Linked DNA regions of Homo sapiens: regions 1 and 2 are each linked to region 3. Evidence: fine-mapped expression QTL. A gene starts in region 3. Each other region holds a variant in brackets. All regions are shown on one strand. Distances are from middle to middle. Region 1 overlaps SDCBP (syndecan binding protein). Region 2 overlaps NSMAF (neutral sphingomyelinase activation associated factor). Region 3 holds the start of NSMAF (neutral sphingomyelinase activation associated factor).

Evidence for each region. PIP is the estimated chance that this variant, and not a neighbour inherited with it, causes the effect.
Region 1: its variant is the best candidate, but not a certain one, in a credible set for the expression of NSMAF in blood mononuclear cells (TOPMed, PIP 0.56).
Region 2: its variant is the best candidate, but not a certain one, in a credible set for the expression of NSMAF in cerebellar hemisphere (GTEx, PIP 0.67).

The regions. Positions count from the first base shown.
Region 1 is chr8:58,565,114-58,573,275 of GRCh38, reverse strand. It overlaps SDCBP (syndecan binding protein), which reads right to left. Exons shown (of 9, transcript NM_005625.4): 3 at 2,311-2,389; 4 at 962-1,071. Among named protein-coding and RNA genes, the nearest start is that of SDCBP, 16 kb to the right of the region's middle. The variant C/A (reference allele first, on the strand shown) is at 3,940.
Region 2 is chr8:58,632,638-58,640,825 of GRCh38, reverse strand. NSMAF (neutral sphingomyelinase activation associated factor) reads left to right here. Exons shown (of 31, transcript NM_003580.4): 3 at 5,280-5,358; 4 at 5,454-5,521; 5 at 5,601-5,637. Among named protein-coding and RNA genes, the nearest start is that of NSMAF, 23 kb to the left of the region's middle. The variant G/A (reference allele first, on the strand shown) is at 3,593.
Region 3 is chr8:58,655,023-58,663,210 of GRCh38, reverse strand. It overlaps NSMAF (neutral sphingomyelinase activation associated factor), which reads left to right and starts at 3,358. Exons shown (of 31, transcript NM_003580.4): 1 at 3,358-3,638. The coding sequence starts at 3,580. It overlaps LOC124902083 (small nucleolar RNA U13), which reads left to right and starts at 867; the gene lies at 867-970. RefSeq lists silencers at 3,281-3,620, 3,631-4,080 and enhancers at 3,792-4,354, 4,531-4,820, 4,355-4,918.

The DNA.
Region 1 (8,162 bases), 90 kb after region 3:
AGACAGACACAGATTTAACTACAATTATAATAAGTGGTACAAAGTGCTATGGTCATAGCAATAACCTTAATAAAAGGTTATCAGACCCATTATAATTAAGCTAGACTCTGGAGTCTAATTACATGGAGCTTTGAATTTCAAAAAGAATGTTAAAAGATTAAGAGCAAAGGCCAGGCACAGTGGCTCATGCCTGTAATCCCAGCACTCTGGGAGGTCGAGGCAGGTGGATCACCTGAGGTCAGGTGTTCGAGACCAGCGTGGCCAACATGGTGAAACCCGGTCTCTACTAAAAATACAAAAAATTAGCCAGGCATGGTGGCGCGCGCTTGTAGTCTCAGCTACTTGGGAGGCTGAGGCAGGAGAATTGCTTGAACCCAAGAGGCGGAGGTTGCAGTGGGCCGAGATCACGCCATTGCACTCCAGCCTGGGTGACAAAGTGAGACTATGCCTCAAAAAAAAAAAAAAAAAAAAAAAAGATTATGAGCAACAAAGATATGATAGACCTATATGTGTATTTCAGAATGATTAACTTAGCAGCGGCTTAGTACTGTCTGAAATAAGTTACTAGAGGAAATTTAAGAGAGTACTATAATAATGAAGGCTAGAAGTATAGAAACCCTGAATATGGTTATAGTAGGACTAGAATGGATAAAAAACAGATAAAATGAATACAAGAAACAGAAACAGAATCAATAGGACTTAGTAACTGACTAAATGCAGAAGACAAAGGAGAACGAACTAGTAAAAGGTATCTGAATCTAAGTCCTAATAAACTCAAAACAGTGTAGCACAAAATGAAGTAGACTATATAAGAAATGATATCCAAAAGGAAGTCTAAAATTTCTGAGAAGTGAGGTTCAATGCTAGTAGTATATCTGTGAGTTAGCCACAAAGAGGAAAGCTTATACTAACATGTAAAGTATGATTTTATATAAATCAAAATTAATTACACTATACATACCCCCTGAAGTGGTGCACCAGAAACCACGGCCACATTTGCACGTATTTCTTCTTCATTTAAACTCAGCCCCATGTATTGAGAGAGCTCTGGATACAGTCTGGGATAGAGATCTAAAAAGTAAATGAATAAATTAAAAAGCACTTACAGAATACACAAAATGAAAACTTCTCTCATTATGGGCTTCTGCGTATTAACAAAATTACACTTAAGTTATAAAATCTAGAATGAATTTAAAGTAGCAATTTGGAAAGGCATCTCCCCATCTCTGTAATAATGAGAAATGGAAAATACAGAAAATGTTTAAAATTCGTAAAATATGAAGACATCTGAACTGAAACAACCAGAGATTCCTAAACACTCAAAAGTAGAAATAACTTTTCCAAATAAACTATCTTGCCTTTCCTGTTTCTTAAAATAAACTTACTTGATTAGGAATTTAGTAAGAATGCCACTGATTCTCCAATTCAGAACAACTGACCAAAATATCTATTTGTCAAGTCAGCTACTTTATAACTCATTCTGTAAACAGGGATATGGAATGATTCTTATGAACAATTTTTTTTGGAAGCTTGTAAATTTATTTAGTGTCTTATCATTTTAATAATTTTAACCACATTCCAATGAAATCCTGGAAATGGTATTTTTAAATATTAACATTATTTCACTTATTAGTAGTTATATACTATTTCCAAAAGCTCTTTTTTACATGAGACTTAAATTATCTGTGACTTAAAATGAATTTTCTATGAGGCACAATGTTATAAACTGTTGTAAGACAAAATGACAGGCCACAAAAACTTATTTAACACTTATTTTGTATCTTAAGTCATAGTATTTAGGAGCTCTGTCCTGAATCCCTCTGAACCTTGAAGAAAAAGGGACCAAAGACAGGATACAGAGAATGAATAAAGGCCTTAAGATTTAGGAGGCTTCCCAAAGAGGAGGTGGTTGGAAATTTCAGAAGCTCCCATAGGAAAGACAGAAGACAATTCAGAAAGTTCAACAGCAGCAGCATGATAGTTCTTAAATGTGAATTCATATAGTTCTCATATGTGAATTCATATATATAATTCATTCATAAATGAATCAGCCACGTTAGGGATTTACAAGTCAGTCTAAAATTAATTTTCATTAAGCCATGAAATACATCCCCATATCCACAGTTCACTATCTTAATTAGAAAAAGGGTTATTTTTTGAAGTAAACTTTTTTTTCTTATTCATAACTATTTGAGCTTAACTACCAATTTTATGCAGCCTGTCCAAAAAAAAATCTTGGATTCCTTATATGAGCAAAAGAAGATAACAATATTTCTGTTCACAGAGAATGAACTCAAAGTATAAACCTACTTCCATCGTGAGGGATAGGAGCAGAAGCTTCTGACAAAATTGCTGGATTGGCAGGGTTTGCAGAAAAAGCAGTTTGAGCCTGAAAAAGAAAAGAAGAAAATTCTAACAATATGCTATACTTACTTTATATTCTTATATAATTTATAAGCTAAATCCAGTACTTCCAAAAAGAAACTAAAACAATGAAGATTTATGTAAGAAAGTTTAATTTCAAACACATCAGCAATACATTTTCCAAAGGAAATCTGCAAATCAAAACTATATTTGATATTCTAAATACTTTTAAGGCTATCACAAAAAAATTGTAGAAGTACCATTCTACATGTCTTATAACCAGCACTTCATAGTGCTGCCACAATAAATTAATATTTTCAAAGTGCATTCTAAAATGAATAAATTTTACATTTTCATTATTCTTTTACTAATTAGTCCAAGTAAAAATATTTTATTTGCATAAGAAAAAACCTTACCCATATTCATATAAAAGTCACATATCAGAAAAACACCTAAAAAATTAATACTAAGCATGTCCCACTGAAATCATCTTTATCTTCATTGCAGCAAGTATAGGAAGGGGTTTATGCTAAATACTTTTAAAATATCAGAAATTATGAAAATAGCACAGTTTATCACTGACATAAATCGATGATGACAAGGTAATGTAATTTGTAACTGTTAAACAAACTTGCCAAAATCACTCTGACACACTCTGACACTCTAGCATTTATCAATGCTACTCATGCTCAAGTATCCTCTTCTCAGGGCTGTCTTGATGGCCTACATCATATGAAGTATCTCACTGATGGAAATACTTTATCCTTTACAATTAGATCTGACTTTCTGAAATAGCTATATGTCATTAGAGACAAGTTTGGTAATAAGTTGTATGACCAATCTCTACCAACTTTTTACTTTATTGGAAATGTATCATTTTAAAAATGAAGTTCATAGTAGTATCTCAACCTAGCCCTAAAATCAATGTCAAGAGTATTCCCAAAGATGCTTGGAGATATGAAAGCTTAGTTTAAATAAGTAAAGCCTATGAAAGCTTTGAATGGTACTAAAATTATATGTTCTGATATACTTGTTGAGTCATCCTTTAATATTTATTATTTCATAATTTGTTAAACATTCTAGATTTAAACAAAATACAGCATGAAAATCTTTATAATTATAAATAACAATCCACAAATTGAACATGTGTTGAACTTTGAAAGTTCTTTCACCACCGATTAGCTAAAAGGAGCTAGTGGCTTGTTATATTACTTCTTGAATCATGTCTAACAAAAAAAATACTGTGCGGCACTGGGAAAAAAAAAAGAACTATAAAGACATGAAAAGACATGGAGGAAACTTAAGTGGATATTACTAAGTGAAAGAAGCCAATCTCAAAAGGCTACATACTTTATGATTCCAACTATACGACATTTTGAAAAATGCAAAATTGTGGAGATAATAAAATATTAGGCCAGGCACAGTGGCTGAGGCCTTTAATCCCAGCACTTTGGGAAGCTGAAGCTGGAGAGTTGCTTGAGGCCTGGAGTTCAAGACCAGCCTGGGCAACATAGGAAAACCCTGCCTATGCAAAAAATTGTTTTGGCCAGGCACAGTGGCTCATGCCTGTAATCC[C/A]AGCACTTTGGTAGGCTGAGGTGGGCAGATCACCTGAAGTCAGGAGTTCAACTGACCAACATGGCATGTTGTCATGTTTGTCATGGCCAACATGGCAAAACCCTGTCTCTAGTAAACATACAAAAATTAGCCGGGCATGGTGGTGGATGCCTGTTAATTCCAGCTACCCGGGAGGCTGAGGCAGGGAGAATTGCTTGAACCCAGGAGGAGGAGGTTGCAGTGAGCCAAGATCGCACCACTGCACTCCAGCCTGGTGACAGAGCCAGACTCCGTTTTGGGGGAAAAAAAAATTTTCTTTTTAAACTAGCTAGGTGTGGTGGTGCATGCCTGTAGTCCCAGCTACTTAGAAGGCTGTGGCAGGAGGATGGACGCTGCAGTGAACCATGACTGTGCCACTGTACTCCAGCCTGGGCAACAGAGCGACATCCTGACGCTAAAGAAAACACAAAAGCAAAAGCAAATTATTGGTTGCCAGGAGTTTCTAGAAGGGAAGGAAGAACAGGCATTAAAGAATTTTTCGAGCAGTGAACCTATTCTGTCTAATGCTACAATGGTATACAGTCATGTGCTGCCTGTTCTGGTCAATGATGAACCACATATACAATAGTGGTCCCATGAGATTATAAAAGAGCTAAAAAATTCCTACTGTCTAGTGACATCATAGCTGCCGTCACACAGAACAACTCATTACTTTGTGGTGATGGTGGTGTAAATAAGCTTACTGCACTGCCAGTCATATATAAAAAAGTATAGCATCTACAATTATGCATGGTACATAATACTTGATAATAATAAATGACTATGTTACTCATTTATGTATTTCCTGTGTTATACCCTTTAGAGTATATCCTTCTACTTACAAAAAAAGTTAACTGTAAAACAGTCTCAGGCAGGTCCTTCAGGAGGTATTCCAGAAGGCACTATTACCATTGGAAATGACAACTCCATGCATGTTACTGCCTCTGAAGACCTTTCAGTGGGATGATGTGGAGGTGGAAGACAGTGATATTGATGATCCTGACCCTGTGCAGGCCTAGGCTAATGTGAGTGTGTGTCTCAGTTTTTAACAAACTTACAAGCGATTTTTAAAAACTAAAAATTTAAAAAATAGGAAAAAAGCTTATAGAATCAGGATATAAAGAAAGAAAATATTTTATACAGCTGTACAATGTTTGTGTTTTAAACTATGTTATTACAAGAGTCAGAAAGTTAAAAAATTAAAGTTACAGGAAGCTAAGGTTAATTTATAATTCGAGAAAGAAAAATTTTTAAATAAATTTAGTGCAGCCCAAGTATAGAGTATTGATAAAGTCTACAGCAGTATACAATAATGTCCTAGGCCTCACATTCACTCACCGCTCACTCACTGACTTACCCAGCGCAACTTCTAGTCCTGGAAGCTCCATTCATGGTAAGTGCCTTATACAGATGTACCATTTTAAATCTTTTACATTGTATTTTTACCATACCTTTTCTGTGTTTAGATACACAAATACTATTGTGTAACAATTGCCTACAGTATTCAGTACAGTAACATGCAGTATTACTGTATCATACAGGTGGGATCATACAGGTTTGTAGCATAGGAACAACAGACTATACCATACTGCCTAGATGTGTAGTAGGCTATGCCATCTACATTTGTGGAAGTACACTCTATAATGTTTGCACGACAAAACTGTCTAATGAGGCATTTCTCAGAACATATCCGTCTTTAAGCAACACATGACTATATACACGTCACTATACATTTGTCAAAATCCACAGAACATATAACACCAACAGTGAACCCTAATGTGATGTAATGTAAATATGTAGACTTCAGGTGATATTAATGAGCCAGATGTACTGCTCTGGTGCAGATGCTGATACTGGGGGAGGTTGTGCATGTGTGAGGACAGAAGGTATACTGTACTTTCTGATCAATTTTGTTGTGAATCTAAAATTGCTCTAAAACACAGCTTATTAATTTAAAATACTTCTCCTTTGTATGTAGTTATGAATTTCTGTTCTTTCATTGCTATTGTTTTTAATCCAAGGAATACTGAAGAATACATATAGAAAGCTCCCTGCAAAGTTAAATTTAATTATGTTATTTGCAGTAAAAATGAAACAAAAGGATGTAACCCAATTTTAAGTACTGTAAACCATTAAATGTAGCTACTTATTTCAAACTTACTTTGAAATGTGACACTACTAAAAAAAGGGGTTGGGGTGCCCCAAGGAGCATGCCAGGGCCTATTGTTTCTGCCATTAACAGAAAGGATGTGGAAAAAACATGCTTGTAGCGTCACTGCTGCCAAATTCTGCCCACCATATTAGGAAACTGATAAGCTCTGGTTCTGTATATCATTATTTATTAAAAGCTTACTTTGCATAAGTAGAGGAAACCACAGGCTCTTGTCAGGATTTGGAATGGAGAGAAAAAGGTCTAGGGACTGTATGATGCTAAAAGCCACAGCCTAGTGGCTACTGCAGAATAGTTTACAAAATATGAATGGTTGGTTCATTGCTGTAATTTAGCTTTGCTGTGGTGTTAAAGGCCAGCAGATGAGAAAATGAATACTACCTTCCTTCATAATACCGTTTCAGGAGAATCTTAAGAATAAAAACAAACATGAGTATCATCCACCTTAGAAAATGATGCAAAAAAACAAAACAAAACAAAACAAAAACAGCCAAAGAGTTTAATGGCTAAATTAGGAATATTTTTAAATTCAGGGGTAATAAAAGAACCATGTTTCCCACTCCTTATTCACTGTTCTATCTCCCAGCTGCTTTCTGCTCTGAACATAAAACGTTCTTTAATGTAAATATCTATGTAATTCACTTCTGCTTAAAGAGGGCAGCATGATACAGATTGTAGCCCTCTTTATTTTTCATTCCAATATTTGTCAATATCAACTCTTCTGCTGCTGCTGTTTTCAAAACCAAAAGCCTCAGCTCATATCTGACTATGGTGAATTTACATTCAATTCCATAAAAAGCTAACAAAAAAAGGATGAAAACAAAGAACAGATTAGTCATTCTTACAGGTCCATCTAAAAATCCTTATCAGTTAATGTATTGATGTCATATTAATGGCTAAGCAGTTATTCTGGAAAGCTAAATATTTCAGATAAAGGCCTTTTAAAAAGAAAAGTGCTTGTTTAGATGAACTATGTGGAAATAAAAACCACATGAAGAAAATACTGACAAAATACTAAAGAAGTGATAGGAACATGTAAAAGATGACTGAATAGGCCACTTGAAACTTTGAGGCATCAAAGCCTTGGCAGCTGAACTGTAGATTTTAGAGATTTTACAAACCTCATTTTAATATCCATACTGGATCTATGATAGAAAATAATTGTTCATAATTCAATTATCAGTAAGTAAATTGAATATCTCACTTTCTAGTAAATTGAAGACAGGGACCCAATAAAATGATCTTCAGGGTAAGGAGTTTTCGTTTATCTTGTCAAATTAAAACAATAAACAACGGCTGAAGAAATTCTAAATTGATAAGAGATCAAGTTGAAAGCTAACCGTAAACAAATTCATCATATACTACAAATTACCCCCAATTAAAATAATTACCAAAAATTTCCCAATTAGCCAGAATTGGTCCCAATTCCTCACTTTGTTCTTAAGCAGAAGCATTTGTCTTCAAAGCTAATACTTATACAAAGGAGTATAAAAATTTTCAACTCAATGCAATTAGAAATACTGCAATCTCTACACAGTCATTTAGAGAATGAACAAGTGAAATGTCTGCTGCTCATCTCTCAAAGGAAAGAAATCACTACACTTTCCCTGTGCTCTTACATGACTGCTCTTCTAAAAGCAGCATGTACGCCACTATTTCTGTAATTTTAACTTCAGTTAAGAGACATAGAATTAAAGAGTGGTCATACCTAAAGATCCAAAAGAAAAATATACCAATTTTATACAAAACTATGAATATCTACAAAATTGGAGTATATTTTGTCAACTCAAATATGTTACATATAATTAAATTTTAACCAGAAATGTAAAAAGTGTAAGTCGAATTAAAAAAATCTCATGCCTATTAATTCACAGTGAAATGAAAAAAAAAATTGCTAATTTTTCTGTAAACTTTTCAGTCTGCAATTAATAAAACTAAAAAAAGGTTTATGAAGTGTAAAAATGAACAAATATATCTGCTATTTAGCTATCTTGCTTTATTTCACCTATAAGTAGAATGCATGTTACTGTGTTTG
Region 2 (8,188 bases), 22 kb after region 3:
GTAAGCCAAGGCAGTACAGTACGATCTCTTGTGGCCAGGAGTTTGAGACCAGCCTGATCAACATAGCGAAACTCTGTTTCTATTTATTACAATTATATATTAAAAAAAGAAAAGACAAGAAACAAATGAATTTAATTATAAAGTTGGAGTTAGCCACAGAAAATTATTTTAATCAACTTTACAATATAATAATTTGACTGTGTATCTCTGGTAAGATGAAAAAGTATTGCAAAGAAGTTGAAAAAGAATGTAAAGTAATTGTAAACTTTTCCAGTTGCAATATTGTTGTTATTAGTATACTATTAGTATTATTATTTTGAAACTATTTTATACATGCATGTATATGTATTTATATAATTGGATAAAACAATTTAATAAGTATGGCCAAGACTCAGATTTTCCAGTATAAAAGAAAAGAGACATACATGTAATATTAAAGAAATAAAGCCTTTTTCATGCACTTTCCTCCTTTTTTCCAGCTTTATTGAGATATAATTGATGAATAAAAATTGTATATATTTAGGGTATACAATTTGATGTTTTGATATACATACACATTGTGAAATGCTGACCACAATCAAAGTAATTATCATATCCATCACCTCACAGTTACCTTCTTTTGTGTGTGTGGGAATAAGAACATATAAGATCTACTCTCTGAGCCAATTTCAAGTGTATGATGTGGTATGGACTGTAGTCAATAACTCTACATTAAATCTGCAGAACTTATCCTGGATAATGGACAACTTGTGCACTTTGCCCAGCATCTCCCCATTTCTTCCACCCCCTTTAATTTCGTGAAGTTTAACTTACTCTTGCCTGAACAAAGCTCTGAGCTTTCCCACCTAAAAAATTTTCGTAAGTTCCATTCTTGTCTCTTCTTTGAATTAAACTCTTTTAGAGTCTACGTGAAATCATGTAGTATTTGTCCTTCTGTGGCTGGCTTATTTTACTTAGCATAATGTCCTCCAAGTCCATCCACATGGCCACAAGTAGCAGGATTTCCTTTTTTGAGGCTGAATAATATTCCATTGTGTGTATGTATGTATGTCTATTTTTATATGTTTTATATTCATATATATATCATATTTTCTTTATTCATTAATCTATCAATGGACACTTAGATTGATCCCAAATCTTGGCTACTGTAAATAATACTGTAATGAACATGGGAGTACAGATACATCTTCAACATACTGGCTCCATTTGCTTTGGATGTATACCCAGAAGTGGGATTGCTGGATAGTATGGTAGTTCTATTTTTAGTTTTTTGAGAAACCTCTGTACTGTTTTCTTTAATGGCTAAACCAATTCATATTCCCACCAGCAGTATATAAGGGTTCTCTTTTCTCCACGCTCTTGCCAACAACTGTTATCTTTTGTTTTTTGATAATAGCCATCCTAACAGGTGTGAAGCAATAGCTTAATGTGGTTTTGATTTGCTTTTCTCTGATGATTAAGGCTGCTGAGGATCTTTTCATATGCTTGTTGGCCATTTGTATGTCTTCTTCTTCTTCTTCTTCTTCTTTTTTTTTTTTTATTGAGACGGAGTCTCACTCTGTCACCTAGGCTGAAGTGCAGTGGCGTGATCTCTGCTCACTGCAACCTCTGCCTTCCGGGTTCAAGCGATTCTCCTGCCTTAGTCTCCCAAGTAGCTGGGCGTACAGCACGTGCCACCATTTCTGGCTAATTTTTTTGTATTTTTATTAGAGACGGGGTTTCACCGTGTTAGCCAGGATGGTGTCGATCTCCTGATCTTGTGAACCACCCGCCTCGGCCTCCGAAAGTGCTGGGATTACAGGCGTGAGCCACCACACCCACCCATTTGTATGTCTTCTTTTGAGATATGTCTATTCAGGTCCTCTGCCTGTCTTTTAATAGGCTATTTGTTTTCTTATTATACTATCAAGTTGTTCGAGTTTTTTATGTATTTTGGATATTAGCCCCTTATCAGAAGTATGGTTTTCAACTATTTTCTCCCATTCCGTAGGTTGTCTTTTGACTTTGTTAATTATTTTTCTTGATGCACAGAAGCTTTTTGTTTTATGTAATCCCATTTGTCTATTTTTGCTTATATTGCCTGTGCTTTTGGAGTCATCCAAAATACTGCCCAGACCAATGCCGAGAAGCTTTTCTGTATTTTTTCTTTCAGCAGTTTTACAATTTCAGGACTTACATTTAAGTCTTCAGTTCATTTCAAGTAGATTTTTATGTATGGGATGAGGTAAGGGTTCACTTTTTTTTTTCCACGGGGATATCTAGTTTTCCCAACACCATTTATTAAATAAACTATCCTTTCTTCATTGTGTGTTTTTGGCACCTTTGTGGATGATTAGTTGACTGCATATATGTGGATGTATTGTGTTCCATTGGTCTGTACAGCTGTATCATGCTGTTTTGATTAATGTAGCTTTGTAGTATATTTTGAAACCAGGTAGTTTGATGCCACCAGTTTTGTTCTTCTTGTTCAAGATTACTCTGGACCAGGCATGGTGGCTTGCACCTGTAATGCCAGCTACTCAGGAGGCTGAGGAGGGAGGATCACTTGAGACCAGGAGTTGGAGACCAGCCTGAGCAACCTAGCAAGACCCCATCTCTAAAAAAACTAAAAATTAGCTGGGCATGGTGGTGCACACCTGGAGTCACAGCTACTTGGAAAGCTGAAGCAGGAGGATTGATTGAGCCCATTTTGAGGCTGCAGTGAGCTATAATCATGCTACTGAACTCTAGCCTGGGTGACATAGTGAGATCCCATTTCTTAAAATGAAACAAAACAGATTGTTTTGGGTGTTTTGTTTATTTTGTGGGTCAATATCAATGTTAATTTCTTTTTTTCTGTTTCTGTTAAAAATGCCATTGGGATTTTAATAGGGTTTGCTTTTAATTTGTAGATTGCTTTGGAAAATATGGACATTTTAGCAGTATTAATTCTTCCAGTCTGTGAACACCAGATATCTTTCTATTTATTTGTGTCTACTTCAGTTTCTTTCATCAGTGTTTTGTAGTTTTCAGTGTACAGACTTTTTACCTCCTTGGTTAAATTTATTCCTAAGTGTTTTGTTTTTCCTTTGGTGCTTTTATAAATTGAATTGTTTCTGTAATTTCTTTTTTGGATAGATCATTGTTAGCATATAGAAATGCAACGCTGTTTTTTGTATATTGATTTTGTATTCTTCAGTTTTACTGAATTTGTTTATTGGTTTGAATAGTTTTTTTGATAGAATCCTTAGGGTTTTTGTATACATATAAAATCATGTTATTTGCTAACAGAGACAGTTTAACTTTTCCAATTTGGATGCCTGTTCTTTCTTTTACTTGCCAAATTGCTCTGGCTAGGATTTCCAGTACTATGTTGAATAGTAGTGGTAAGAGTGGGCACCTTTGTGTTGCTTTTCTCTTTAAATGACAGTATTTCTTACCTCTATCTTTTGAAAAGGCCTAGAAATAACTCAGTTGCAATCAGCACCAAGAATCTGGTCTCTTAATACCACTTCCCACTGAAAGGATGGGGGTTCTTTGGAGAAATTGCTGATTCTAAGTCAGAGGCAGGAAATCTGTGAGATGAACCTGGGACATCCTGTCATACTGGCAA[G/A]TAAGGAAGGTATCAAAGACTACTGTAAATGAATTAAAAGGATGCAGGGGCAAGTAGACGATGCTGACATTGGGCCAAAAATGCGACAATGTAAGCATCAGAAAAGAATAACTTCTGCAATGGATTGAAATGTTTCATAAATGTTAAAATTCATGAGTACGTAATTTTATAAATATGTGTGTTTGTGTGTGGGTGTGTGTGTGTGTGTGTGTGTGTATAATCTTAATCAGTTATCCTCGAAGGATAGGAAGACAACAACTCATTTTTGTAACACTTGATAAATAAAGGTAAAGAATCAAGCATTTTTGTTATTTTCCTTGTACAAATTGTACTTCAGGGTAGCCAAATTGCTGATAAGTAAAGTTGTTCTTTTTTGTCAAATTCTAGCTCATAACATAGAAGGAATGATAAAATTTCAATGCCTAATGGAAGAATGGATTCACAGCAGGGCTTGGCAAACTACAGCCCTTGGGCCATATCTGAGCTGCCACTTGTTCTTGTAAAGTTTTACTGGAACACAGGCATTCCCATTTGTGTACATACTGTGTGTGGCTGCTTTCCCTATAACAGCAAAGTTGAATGGTTGTGACTGAGACCATATGGCCCACAAAGCAAAGATATTTACTATCTGGCTCTTTACAGAAAGTTTACCAGCCCTTGATCTAGATAGTAATTTTCAATAGCTGCTAAAACCTTTAGGTGAGAGAAGCTGCTGGGAAATTTTGTAATGGCTATATGGAGATTGACATCACCTGATCCTCTGGGTGCCTCTGGATGTGAAGGCAGTACCCGTGTACTACCTCTGAAAGTATTCTTTGAACACTGGCTGTATACATGATGACATTAAAGAATTATTAATTTCTTAGAGTGTGTTAATGATTGGTCACTTATTAAGAGAGGCTGTCTTCAGAGATTTTTGCTAAAATATTTGTGGATAAAGTATATGATGTCAATAATTTTCTGTGTTATTCAGCAGGGTCCCAGGGGGTTATACACAAGACAAGAGTGACCACATATTGACAATTGTAGAGCTAGGCCATTGGTACATGGGAGTTTTCTATTCTATTTGTATATGTTTAGAAATTTCATAAAAGTTTTTATGTTACTATTGGGTAATTTTGGGTATTAGAAAAGTAAATGCAGTTAACAACTTGGAAAAATGATATGAAATGGTATAAAATTTCAAAAACCCTTTGAGAAAGAATTGCAAACTAAATCATAACCTTCAGTAGAATGGGCCTTCTCATCTATTCAGTACATGTATATTGAGCACTGAGAATAGAAAGCCAAAGTAAATATTTACTGCTCACAAAAGAACAGGCAGTGTTACTCTGGGGTGGGATGAGTGTAGGCATTCTCAGTCTGTAAGACTATTTCTCAGTGTGATGTTTCTGGATTCATTAAGTTTCTAGCCAATAGATGCTGTAAACTATATGGAGATACACATATAAACCAAAGAAGTTTAATTAAAAACTTTCTAACATTTGAATTGTAAATGCCAATATGAACCACTATTCTGTGTTTTGTTTTACCAGTTAATTTAAAAATAGAGACGTTCTCTTTATATGCATTATTGATCTTTTATTATGTGATGCTTTAGTAACCTGCTTTCTAGTTAAAATGTACTATGATTATCTTGTGATTTTTGTTATGCTCATCAAACAATCTGTTGTACTTGGATCCCTAGGAAAATCAGAGGCTCCTTAAAAATATGTTCAAAATCGGTGATTTTTGAACCAGATTCAATATCCCAGCCCATCATCAAGGTAAATACATTTTAAATATGAACAGAAACATTCCTATTTTTTGTGTATGTCTTACCTTTCTTGATTTTTATAATATTTCTCTCAATTTTATCCAGATTCCTTTGAGAGACTGTATAAAAATAGGAAAGCATGGAGAAAATGGAGCCAATAGACACTTCACAAAGTATGTCATTTTCACCACTGTTTAATTTTACTTCAACCAAAAAGCTGTATATATTTAATGACTTTTATCTGTATTTTAGGGCAAAATCTGGGGGTATTTCACTCATTTTCAGTCAGGTAAGCACATAATAAATATTTTTTCCTAATCTGAATGAACATTCTTATATATGTGCATGAATGAAATTACTTGTAGAGATATCAGATGAAGACCATGGAATAGAAATCAAATGCTTTTAGAATTCAGTCATTGAGAAATATAGTTTTAAAAAGATGTGATCCCTAATGAGCTTCTTCATGTTTATTAAGTGTGTGATATCTGTGGGCTTGCGGTTTTGTCCTTGGAGCTCTCACGATTTATGATTTACGAGGCTTGAAATGAAGGGATGCAGCTCTTCCCGTAGCTTCCTAGCTATTTAGAAGGTGAGAGTCCATTGCCATGCCACTTAAATGATCTCAGGGACTTAGGACAACCAAGGCAATGACTTGGGATTGGTGGTCTTGTATCATTATGACCCTTGTGGTAATAACCTTTTGTTCATTCCAGATTTATTCCCTTTATATTTATGCACCCACCACTGCACTCAATATAGGCATGACAGCATTGGCAATAAAAGGTCAATTAAAACATGCTTTTTCTCCTGTCATATTATTAATTAGTATGTAGATTTAAAAAATTGTAAATAAGAAGGGACTACTTTCTTTTGGCTCTGGGTTTCATCTGCTTCATCTTTAAAGCGAAAGGGTTAGCAGATGTTGCCTTGACAGCTCTCGTTCCTTGGGGTGTTGAAGTGTTCAGAGAAGAATTGTTCTGGGATGAATAAGGGATAAGAAAAGCTGTGGGAACAAAGATGCACGGACTTGCTGACTTCAAAACTTGACTTAAATCCTCTCATGCAACAGACCAGAGTGTCCCTAGGAGGCAGATGGGGAGGGGAAGAGCATGCTCCCAGCACTTTTTCTATCACTGAAGCCTTTTGTTCACAGAACACTTTTAACATGTGTTGAAAGTTATTTTATGAAAGCTGAGAGGTAGCAGATGATTTGATTTTCTACATCTACCTTCCATGATTCTATTAATTTTAAGGAAGAAAACATTTCACAGGCTTCCTCAACTTCATGTTGTTTTAACTGGTATATGTGAAGACAGTGACAACCATCTACTGCTCTGGGGACCAAACATCGTTATTAATAATTCTGGTCCACCTCCATACTCTCATGTCTATCGTGTCATTTTACTTCATGACCTGGTTCCACAAAGCCCATATCTTGAAAGGAAGAGGTACTTTTTGACTTGAAGATAGGGTTTTCATTATAAAACTATACATTTTAGTTATTTTAGTAAAAATTTAATAACTTTGAGCTTAGGAATAAAGCCCCCAAATTCCTCCACCTACTTTTTTAATAGTTTATAGAAGAGGTCTTGTATGAAACCAGCTCAAAACCAGCCCGACACAAGCTACTCTTTCAAGCATTATTTAAAGCTTCCTGTGTCAAGTATACAACCAGGCAACTTTTGGGTTTTTTGAATATATACTAGGTCACAAGATCTCAGAAATATAGTACGGTGCTTTATATTTAGAGAGCTTTGCTTCCAATTTTTTTGTTGCTGCTAAAGAAGGGTGTGTGCATGTTTATATGAATAACAGATTCGACTCATGGATTCAATAAGTATTATATTCAGGGCTCTGGCAATCTAGGGAAGAACAAGATATCTGAAGCCTTTTGCTCCATGGACTTTACTTTTCAGTGGGGGAGACAGACAATAAACAAATGTCTCCTCTAATGTCAGGTGGTAACAAATGCTATGAAGAAAATGAAAGCAAGACAGAAGGATAGAAAATGATAAGGAATGTTCTCATGCTGCTTTAGAAAGAGTAGTCAGGGATGCCTCACTGAGAAGAGGCCACTTACCAAGAGACTCAGAAGGCTTAAGGCATTGAGCTGTGCAATTATCACAAACACTGGTATTCCAGGTACAGAGAGTGGTGGGGGAGAAGCCTGAAGGTGGGCATGTCCTTGACAGGTGGGAGGCACAGGAGTGTGAGTGCTCCTGGGGTGCGTGAGTCAAGGAGAACACTCAAGGGAGGCTGGAATAGGGGCAGGGACCGTGTCATGCGGGGCCTTGTGGGCCAAGGTAAGGACTTAGAATAAAGCGCAGAGAGAAATGCCACTGGAGAGCTGAAAGAGAAGGGGTGTGTCTGATTTGTATGTAAGTCTCTCTGGGGGCTGGGTAGAGAACACGCTGTACAAACCAGGGCAAGAGTGGAAGCAAGGAGACCTATTGGGGTGTTCCAGGAATCCAAGTGTATTGAACCACGATGGTGAGAGGTGGTCATTGTCTAGGTATATTCTGAAGAAAACCCAACAGATGTGCTGACGGATTGGTCGCAGGGTATAAAAGGGAACAGTCAAGAATGACTCCAATGAGATAGACAGTAGTGCCCTTTATAGTGATAAAGAGAGTTGGGAAGGAGCAGGCTTCAAGTAGGATGTGAGATTTAAGATGGCCATGAGAACTCCAAGGGGAGACGTCCAGCAGGCATTTGGATGCATCCATCTGGGTTTCAGAGAGGAGGCAGAGGCTAGCAAGACATACTGGGGAGCTGGAAGTTTCTAGAGACTTTTTAAAGCCCTGTGGCTGGATAAGATTTCCTGGGGACTGAGAGTG
Region 3 (8,188 bases):
CCGGGCATAAGTAGTAAATTCTTTTAATTGCTTTGAGCTTTCTCAGACAGGTACATTAAGTGGGGCTGGGTTATGCTAGGGATGTGGCCTCAAGCTGTTAGAAATTATGTTTGTTTGTTTAAGTCTTTTAATGTGGGGGATGGGGACTGGACTAAATTATTCGTGCTGGGAGTCTGGTTTTTATAGGCCAAGGTTGAGGCCTAGTTGAGAAGTGGGCTCAGAGGAATTTGGCTAGAGTTGGGTTAAGGAGATTCTTTAACAGTCTCTGCCTATTCGATCACATCTAATCTTCCTCTAATGTTTAACTTCAAGAAGATAACTTACATTCTGGGTTTTTGTTGTTGTTTTTTCCTTATTCCAGCCAAATTAATCTCTCCTCTGAACTCACAGAACCTTTTGTAGTACTTCTCATAAAGAAATTTATCATGTACCTTTTGACAAATTTTATTATCTTATTTCATTGTGTACCTGCTCATGTATTTATTTCTTGGCTACCAGACAGCATCACAATTTCCTCCAGGAATGTTGACCTAATGTGTTACAGGTTCTGCACTGCACTTGGACACGTGGAAGGGACTCAGTCACAGTCAAAGGGTACCCAGGCACCTTCATTCATTCCCAAAATTTTTAATGGGTGTGCTCAGTATACATAGCATTTTGTCCAGTGCTGCTAGGGGTCAAATTCAAAAGACCCAGCCACAACTTTTATTCTTGGTTTCCCTACCTTCTCTTCACAGTCCTGCGACTTACTAGAGAAAGCTGAGATGTACATTTACCTTGAAGCTTCTAAAAATGTAACCCTGCAAAACCTGATCCTTAAGACAGTATGAGATATGTTTCCACAAGCATACAATTTAGAGGTTTGGATCCTTTTGTAGTTCATAAGTGTGATGATTGGGTGTTCATGTGCAGCTGTGTGATGTGCCGCCCTTGAACCTTGTTACGAGTTTGGCACATTACCTGTTTAACGTGAAAAAGAAACTTAGAGGCGTGTTATTCAAGAATCCCTCAAAGGTAAACAATCAGAGGCTCATTCTCAGCATATATTAAGAAGTTATAACCACACTGAGATACCACTCATACCACTAGAATAGCTCTAAACAAAAGTCAGGTAATAATAAATACTGGTAAAGATGTAGAGAAACTGGAACCCTTCTACGCTGCTGGTGGGCATGTTAAATCGTACAGCCACTTTGGAAAACAGTCTGGCAGTCTCTCAAACATTTAGACATGGAGTTACCATATGACCCAGTTCCATGGTGGGCAGGCCTATACAAATCTATCTCAAAGTCCTGGGATGCCGGGAGGTGGAAGAAAGAGGCTGACAAATAAAGTTCCTTGGGAAGAAACATTTAATAGCGACTAAGGAACAGAAGCCATGTCCATATCTGTGTCTTGGGCAGCAAGATGAGATGGTGGATTGCTGTGCTATTAACCCCCAGACTCAATGTTTTTTTTTTTTTTTCTTTTGAGATAAGGTCTCTCTCTCTCTGTATTGCCTAGGTTGGGGTGCAGTGGTACGATCATGGCTCACAGAAGCCTCAAACTCCTGGACTCAAGTGATCCTCCTGCCTCAGCCTCTCCAGTAGCTGGGACTATAGGTGTGTGCCACTGCACCCAGGTAATTTTTATTTTTTATTTTTTGTAGAGACAGGGTCTTGCTTTGTTGCCCAGGCTGGTCTCGAACTCCTGGCTTCAAGCAATCCTCCTGCCTCAGCCTCTCCAGTAGCTGGGACTATAGGTGTGTGCCACTGTACCCAGGTAATTTTTATTTTTTATTTTTTGTAGAGACAGGGTCTTGCTTTGTTGCCCAGGCTGGTCTCGAACTCCTGGCTTCAAGGAATCCTCCAGCTTCAACTTCCAAAAGCATTGGGATTACCGGCATGAGCCATCACTCCAGCCCCTTAGGGCTTATATACCATAGGGGAGGGGTGGTTCAGAAGGGATGTGTAGGACAATTGAAGTATAATAACATCAAGTTGTTTGAATTAAGGACAGAACATACTGGGTAGATACCTGCTCTTACACAAGGAACAATAGATAAAGTAGAAATCTTAGAGGCCTTCCCAGAACTGGGGTCAATCAGAAGTCAACACGGAGGATTAGCTTCCAAGATGGAGCTGCTTTCGCCTCCACATCCAGCAATTCCACTCTTAGATTCCAATTCCACTCAACAGAAATGGAAACATAGGTCCATAAAAAAACTGTACATGACTGTGTACAGCAGCCTTATTCACAATAGCCAAAATGTGGAAACAACTGAAATGTCCATCAACTGATGAATGGATAAACAAAATGCAACAGAATATGCTCCAGCAATCTAAAGGAACGAAGTACTGTACAGATACATGCTACAACATAGATGAACCTTGAAAGCATTACGCTAAATGAAAGAAGCCAGACACAAAAGGCCACATATTGTATGGCTCCATTTATATGAAATATCCAGAATAGGCAAACCCATAGAGACAGGAAATTGATTATTGTTTGCTAGGGCTGGGGTTTGGAGGGTAGAGTTAGGAAGAGTGACAGCTAGAGGGTATGGGTTTCTTTTACATGTGATGAAAATGTTCTCAAATTGTGGTGATTGTTGAACATATCTGGAAATATACTAAAAATCGCTGAATGGTATACTTTAAATGGTTGACTTGTTTGGTATGTGAGTTATATCCCAATAAAGCTGTTATATAAAAAAAAATCATGCGAGCAATTATCTCAACAATCAAGAGACTGTGTTAAAGATTCTTTGCTTGGCCAAACTTCAGTTAGGCTTCTGAATCTTCTCCCAGGTCCTTGTGTGCACTTCCTTGTAAATGCAGTGTTAGGAAGTAACACTGCCACGGCAGTTTAGCAAGAATCCCCCACCCTCCATATGTGATCAAAATTCTTTACTCCTACCCTTAGTATCTGACCCCCTGGCCTGCCTTCACTGGGACTCCTGTTAGGTTGGTTCAGCCAGAATTTCCCCCAGAATTGATGTTTCCTCTTAGCAGTTTTCCGAACACCTGCTCCTTGCTCCTTGGCTATAAATCTCCACTTATTCCTGGTGTATTTGGAATAGTTACGACTGAGTTGCCTTCACCCCTTTAACTTCCGTCTTTTTTTTTTTTTCACAATGGAGGACACAAAACGTTGTTATTTCAAGTCTTTGTGGCCAACAGATTGGTGGTTTATGGGCCAGCATCCCTTTTTATGCGTAAAATATTTAAAACGCAGCCTGCAATGGTTGGTAAAGTGGTGAAACGTTTAGTGTGTGAGGTCGGATCCTGGTCTGGCCGCTGGCCCTGGCGATCCTCTGAGGCGGCCTGAGTTTGGGGCGCCTCGTGTCACCGCGCGCCCCTCCTCCGGGCCTGAGTCACGGTGCCGCCGGAGTCCCCACGCGAGGATGCTGCGGTGAGCGCGGCCGGGACGCCGCGTCGGGCTCTCGGCCGCCCAGCGGCGCCGCAGGGGAAGCCAGGCCGGCAGCCGCGCGCTCCCCAGCCGGCCACCAATCCCGCCCTCCCCGGCTCCTCCGGACCTCCTCGGCAGGCGGCGGCGGGGCCTGCCTGTGCGCTCTGCGCCCGCCCGCGCCTACCCTCCATGGCGTTTATCCGGAAGAAGCAGCAGGAGCAGCAGCTGCAGCTCTACTCCAAGGAGAGGTGCGCGCCCAGCTGAAGAAGGGCCCAGCCGGGGGCCTAGTCGGGGCCGGTCGTGGGGACGCCGGCCGGAGATCTGAGGGACGGGAGGCGGCGTGGGGGCCGGGCACGGAGGCAGGGGCCGGACGCGTGTCCAGGGCCTGGGCTGGGGGCTGTGGCGGAAACCTGAGGTCGGGGTGAGAGGCCGGGGGCCTGGTCTGGGCCGGAGCCTGCCGGGGACAGGAACTGGATGACGGGCCAGGCCAGATTCCACCGCGGAGCCGAGGCATGCCGAGCTATCCGGCAGTGCAGGTCCCGGCGGCCGCGGGCAGCTCACCCGGAAGGCCGCGCGGGGTCCGGGCGTGGATCCCGGCACGCGAGCCCGGGCGTTCGCAGGGGAGGGTGAGTACGCTGCCCGGCGGGCACCCCCTTTCTAATCCTTCCCCTTAATCGGGTCCAGGCACTCGGCGCCGGCGCCGCAGAGTTGGTCGCCGGGCGGCACCGAGCAGGCCGGCGACCACCCACTCGCATTGCCGCGCCTTTTTCCTGCCGACTCCTTTAGACACAGGACTAGCTCCATGCCCTGGAAGGCTGGGAGGGGGGCCGCCGGAAAGGCCTGATTCTGAGGAAAGCCAAGGTCCTGCCTCCCAAACACTTGCTCCCCGCGCAGTGGACCTTGTGTTGGAAAGCTTTGCAGTCGAAATCGCGGTGCGGCAGCGGAGCACTCATTCTCACCAGCATCCCAGTAAGGATTTGGGATCCCTTGAGCTAAAATGGTCTCACAGCAGTTCCCTTTCAGATATGCTGGACCTGTCCCCAAGGGAAGTCTCATAAGAAAGCTCACTTCGGCTCTATGTATAGTTCCCAGGGCATTTTTGGTGACAGAAACAACTTGCTCGGTCTGCAGCTCAGATGCCAAAAGGAAAGGGGGGCTGAATCATTTTACAGACACACTGTTTTGATTGTGAGAGCCACAGATCTTCCAGTGCTGCTAGCCTGTCACGTTGTCTCATCAGTGAATACCAGCAAAGCAGGTTACACGTGGGAATACAAGTGCAGACTTCAAGATTTGTCTACACTTGTTTTATAAGGGTTGACTCGACCCCTTTGATCCAGACATTCATCTTTCTCTAATCTGTAATGTTGGTCTAACCAGTGTGTCCACAGTACGAAATGTCATTTTTCTACTGTAGAGAAGAAGATACGATACACAGAAAACGTATCTCAGATATGGCTTTCAAAAATGTTTTTGGTGATGTGATTAGGTTTTAGTCACAGAAAGGGTTGTTTATTAAATAACTGAGCCCTAACTATGTAACTCACACTTGGGGATGCCCTTCTGACTGAATTTGTAATGCATTTTTCTTGTGGAAAGAGCTTGAGTGGAGATTCTTTGTTTAGTACCAACAATATTAAGACTTGTTGGTGCTCTGTATTGAGTGGGTGAACATTCATATTTAAATTGTGAGAACTTTGACACACTTGAATTGGCATCATGTTGTATGATATGAGTCATTCGTGCCAATACTCATATTGGCCTTTTTGATATACAGGGAAACGTTTTTTCCTTGGTTCTGGCTGTTATTTCGATGAAGTAATTTGTGTTCAATTTGGCTAGCTCATACAGCTCCGTGGTGTCACACAAACCTTGAAACCTGTACTTGCATTTCCATGTATATGCTGCTTTGTTAGAATTCATTGATTAGACAACAACGTGATAGGCTGGCAGTGTTCAGAGAGAACTCTAGCTCTTGGCAACCAAAACATTTATCTATCCAGTCAGGAGGCATCAACTGTTCCTGAGCATCAGTCATCTGAAAAAGTTGGCGCCATGTGTTTTATATTTATTTGAATTATAACTTGCTGAGTGCCCAAATTGTTTAGTGCTCTGCCCCATGGCTTTGCAACCTGGGCTGATGGGCATACTCCATTCAATGCATAGAATATGCATTTGAATGACAGGAATCTGTCTCACATCAGGTATGCACTGGAATCAAGGAGTCTCTTTTATAAATCTTAGAATTCATTCTGAAACAGAGGAATATTTTAAGGCAACTTTATTAAGCCCCAAATTTACCATTTCTGCCCAGATTTTTCCGGGTTTATCCCCTTGCATCAATAAACACAAATTAGCAAATGGATTGGATTCGTCATTGGCTCCAGCATACCCAGGAAAATTGTTACTTTTCTTGGAAAACTTGAAGAGGGGTTGTTTCAGAGGTTACCCATGAGAGGCCTCAACCTGTTCATTGTAAGTTCACTGGCGGCTCTCATGCTAATTAAGGGATTTTAGATTTCCAGAGCTACCAAATATTGACCCCAGAAAAGAAACTTGAAATGAGCATTTATTTCTCTTATTGTTAGGTTGATGTACTTTGATATTCCTGCAAAAGCAGAAGCATAGAGACTGACTAGGAGATTCTTGCATTGGTGGTTTAAACCAAGGTGGTGGCAGAATAAATGGAGGAAAGTGGATGGATTCTAGATGTTTTTAGGACGTGTGATTGACAGGTCTTGGTGTGGTGTATTGTCTGTGAGAGGTGATAAAGGAAGAATTCCAGCTAGGATTATCTGATAAAATACAGCACACCCAGTTAAGTTCGAATTTCAGATAAACAATGAATAATTTTTTAGTATAAGTAATTGCGATAGTATATGCAATATTTGGTATGTACTTATACTAAAATTTTTTTAGTATAAGTAAATGCAATAGTATATGCAATATTTGGTATATACTTATACTAATTTTTTTTATTTTTATTTTTTTGAGACAGAGTCTCGCTCTGTTGCCCAGGCTGGAGTGCAGTGGCGTGATCTTGGCTCACTGCAAGCTCCGCCTCCTGGGTTCACGCCATTCTCCTGCCTCAGCCTCCCAAGTAGCTGGGACTACAGGCGCCTGTCACCACGCCCGGCTAATTTTTTGTATTTTTAGTAGAGACAGGGTTTCACCGTGTTAGCCAGGATGGTCTCGATCTCCTGACCTCGTGATCCACCCACCCGCCTTGGCCTCCCAAAGTGCTGGGATTACAGGCGTGAGCCACCGTGCCCGGCCCTTATACTAAAATTTTTAAAAGTATATTATTTATCTGAAATTCAAATGTAACTGGGCATATGATATTTTTATTTGCTAAACATGGAAATTCTACTCTCAGACTTCTGGTTTGAATAACTATAAAGTGGTGCCATTTATTGTTGATGTTTATAAATAAATGTTTTGGTAATTTTAAGGATTAGAAAACAGACACTTGGCCATTCGAAATAAGTATACTTATATCCTGGTTAAGATTTAGGTGGCAGGCCAGACACAGGGCTCACGCCTGTAATCCCCAAATTTTGGGAGGCCAAGGCAGGCAGATCACGAGGTGAGGAGTTCGAGACCAGCCTGGCCAATCTCTAATAAAAATACAAAAATTAACCAGGCATGGTGGCGTGCGCCTGTGGTCCCAGCTACTTGGGAGACTGAGGCAGGAGAATTGCTTGAACCTGGGAGGCGGAGGTTGTAGTGAGCCGAGATGGTGCCATTGCACTCCAGCCTGGGCGACAGAGCGAGACTCCATCTCAAACAAACAAACAAAAAAAAGATTTAGATAGCAGGAACCATATTGATTTTATTGTTTTTTAAAAATGTCCTGTGCAGGTGTTGGTGAGGGTAAATTGAAAACATTTTTTATTTTTTATTGTTTTTTTTTATTGAGACGGAGTCTCACTCTCGCCCAGGCTGGAGTGCAGTGGCACGATCTCAGCCCACTGCAAGTTCCGCCTCCCGGGTTCACGCCATTCTCCTGCCTCAGCCTCCCGAGTAGCTGGGACTACAGGCGGCCACCACAGCGCCCGGCTAATTTTTTGTATTTTTAGTAGAGACGGAGTTTCACCGTGTTAGCCAGGATGGTCTCGATCTCCTGTCCTCGTGATCCGCCCGCCTCGGCCTCCCAAAGTGCTGGGATTACAGGCGTTAAAGGCAATTCACATGTCTTCCTTGGATTTGTCAGGGATGGCAGGTGTATACATTGGGTTAGTAGATGAGGATATTATACAGACTTTCTATTTAAGACATTTCTATTTTAATATGAAATATATTAAAAGGTGGGAAGATCACTCGAGCCCAGGAGTCCAAGGTTACAGTGAGCTATGGTCATACCACTGCACCCCAGCCTGGGTGACACAGTGAGACCCTATCGCAAAGAAAAAAAAAAAAAAGACATTTCTATTTTATGATTTAGAAGTAGACTAAAGTAGGCAAATTGTTAAATTTTTTTGCTTTACTATCCACCGTGGAGTGTTGGGATGACAGCTATTTCTTGGGTAATGTAGAAGTTTAGATACTTGCCTAGGTGCCATGGCTTACACTTGTAATCCCAGCCCTTTGGGAGGCCAAGGCACAAAGATCGTTTGAACTCAGGAGTTTGAGACCAGCCTGGGCAACATAGGGAGACCTTTTCTCTATTTAAAAAATAAATAGGCCAGGTGTGGTGCCTCATGCCTGTAGTCCCAGAACTTTGGGAGGCCAAGGTGGGTGGATCACTTGAGGTCAGGAGTTCGAGACCAGCCTGGTCAACATGGTGAAACCCTGTCTC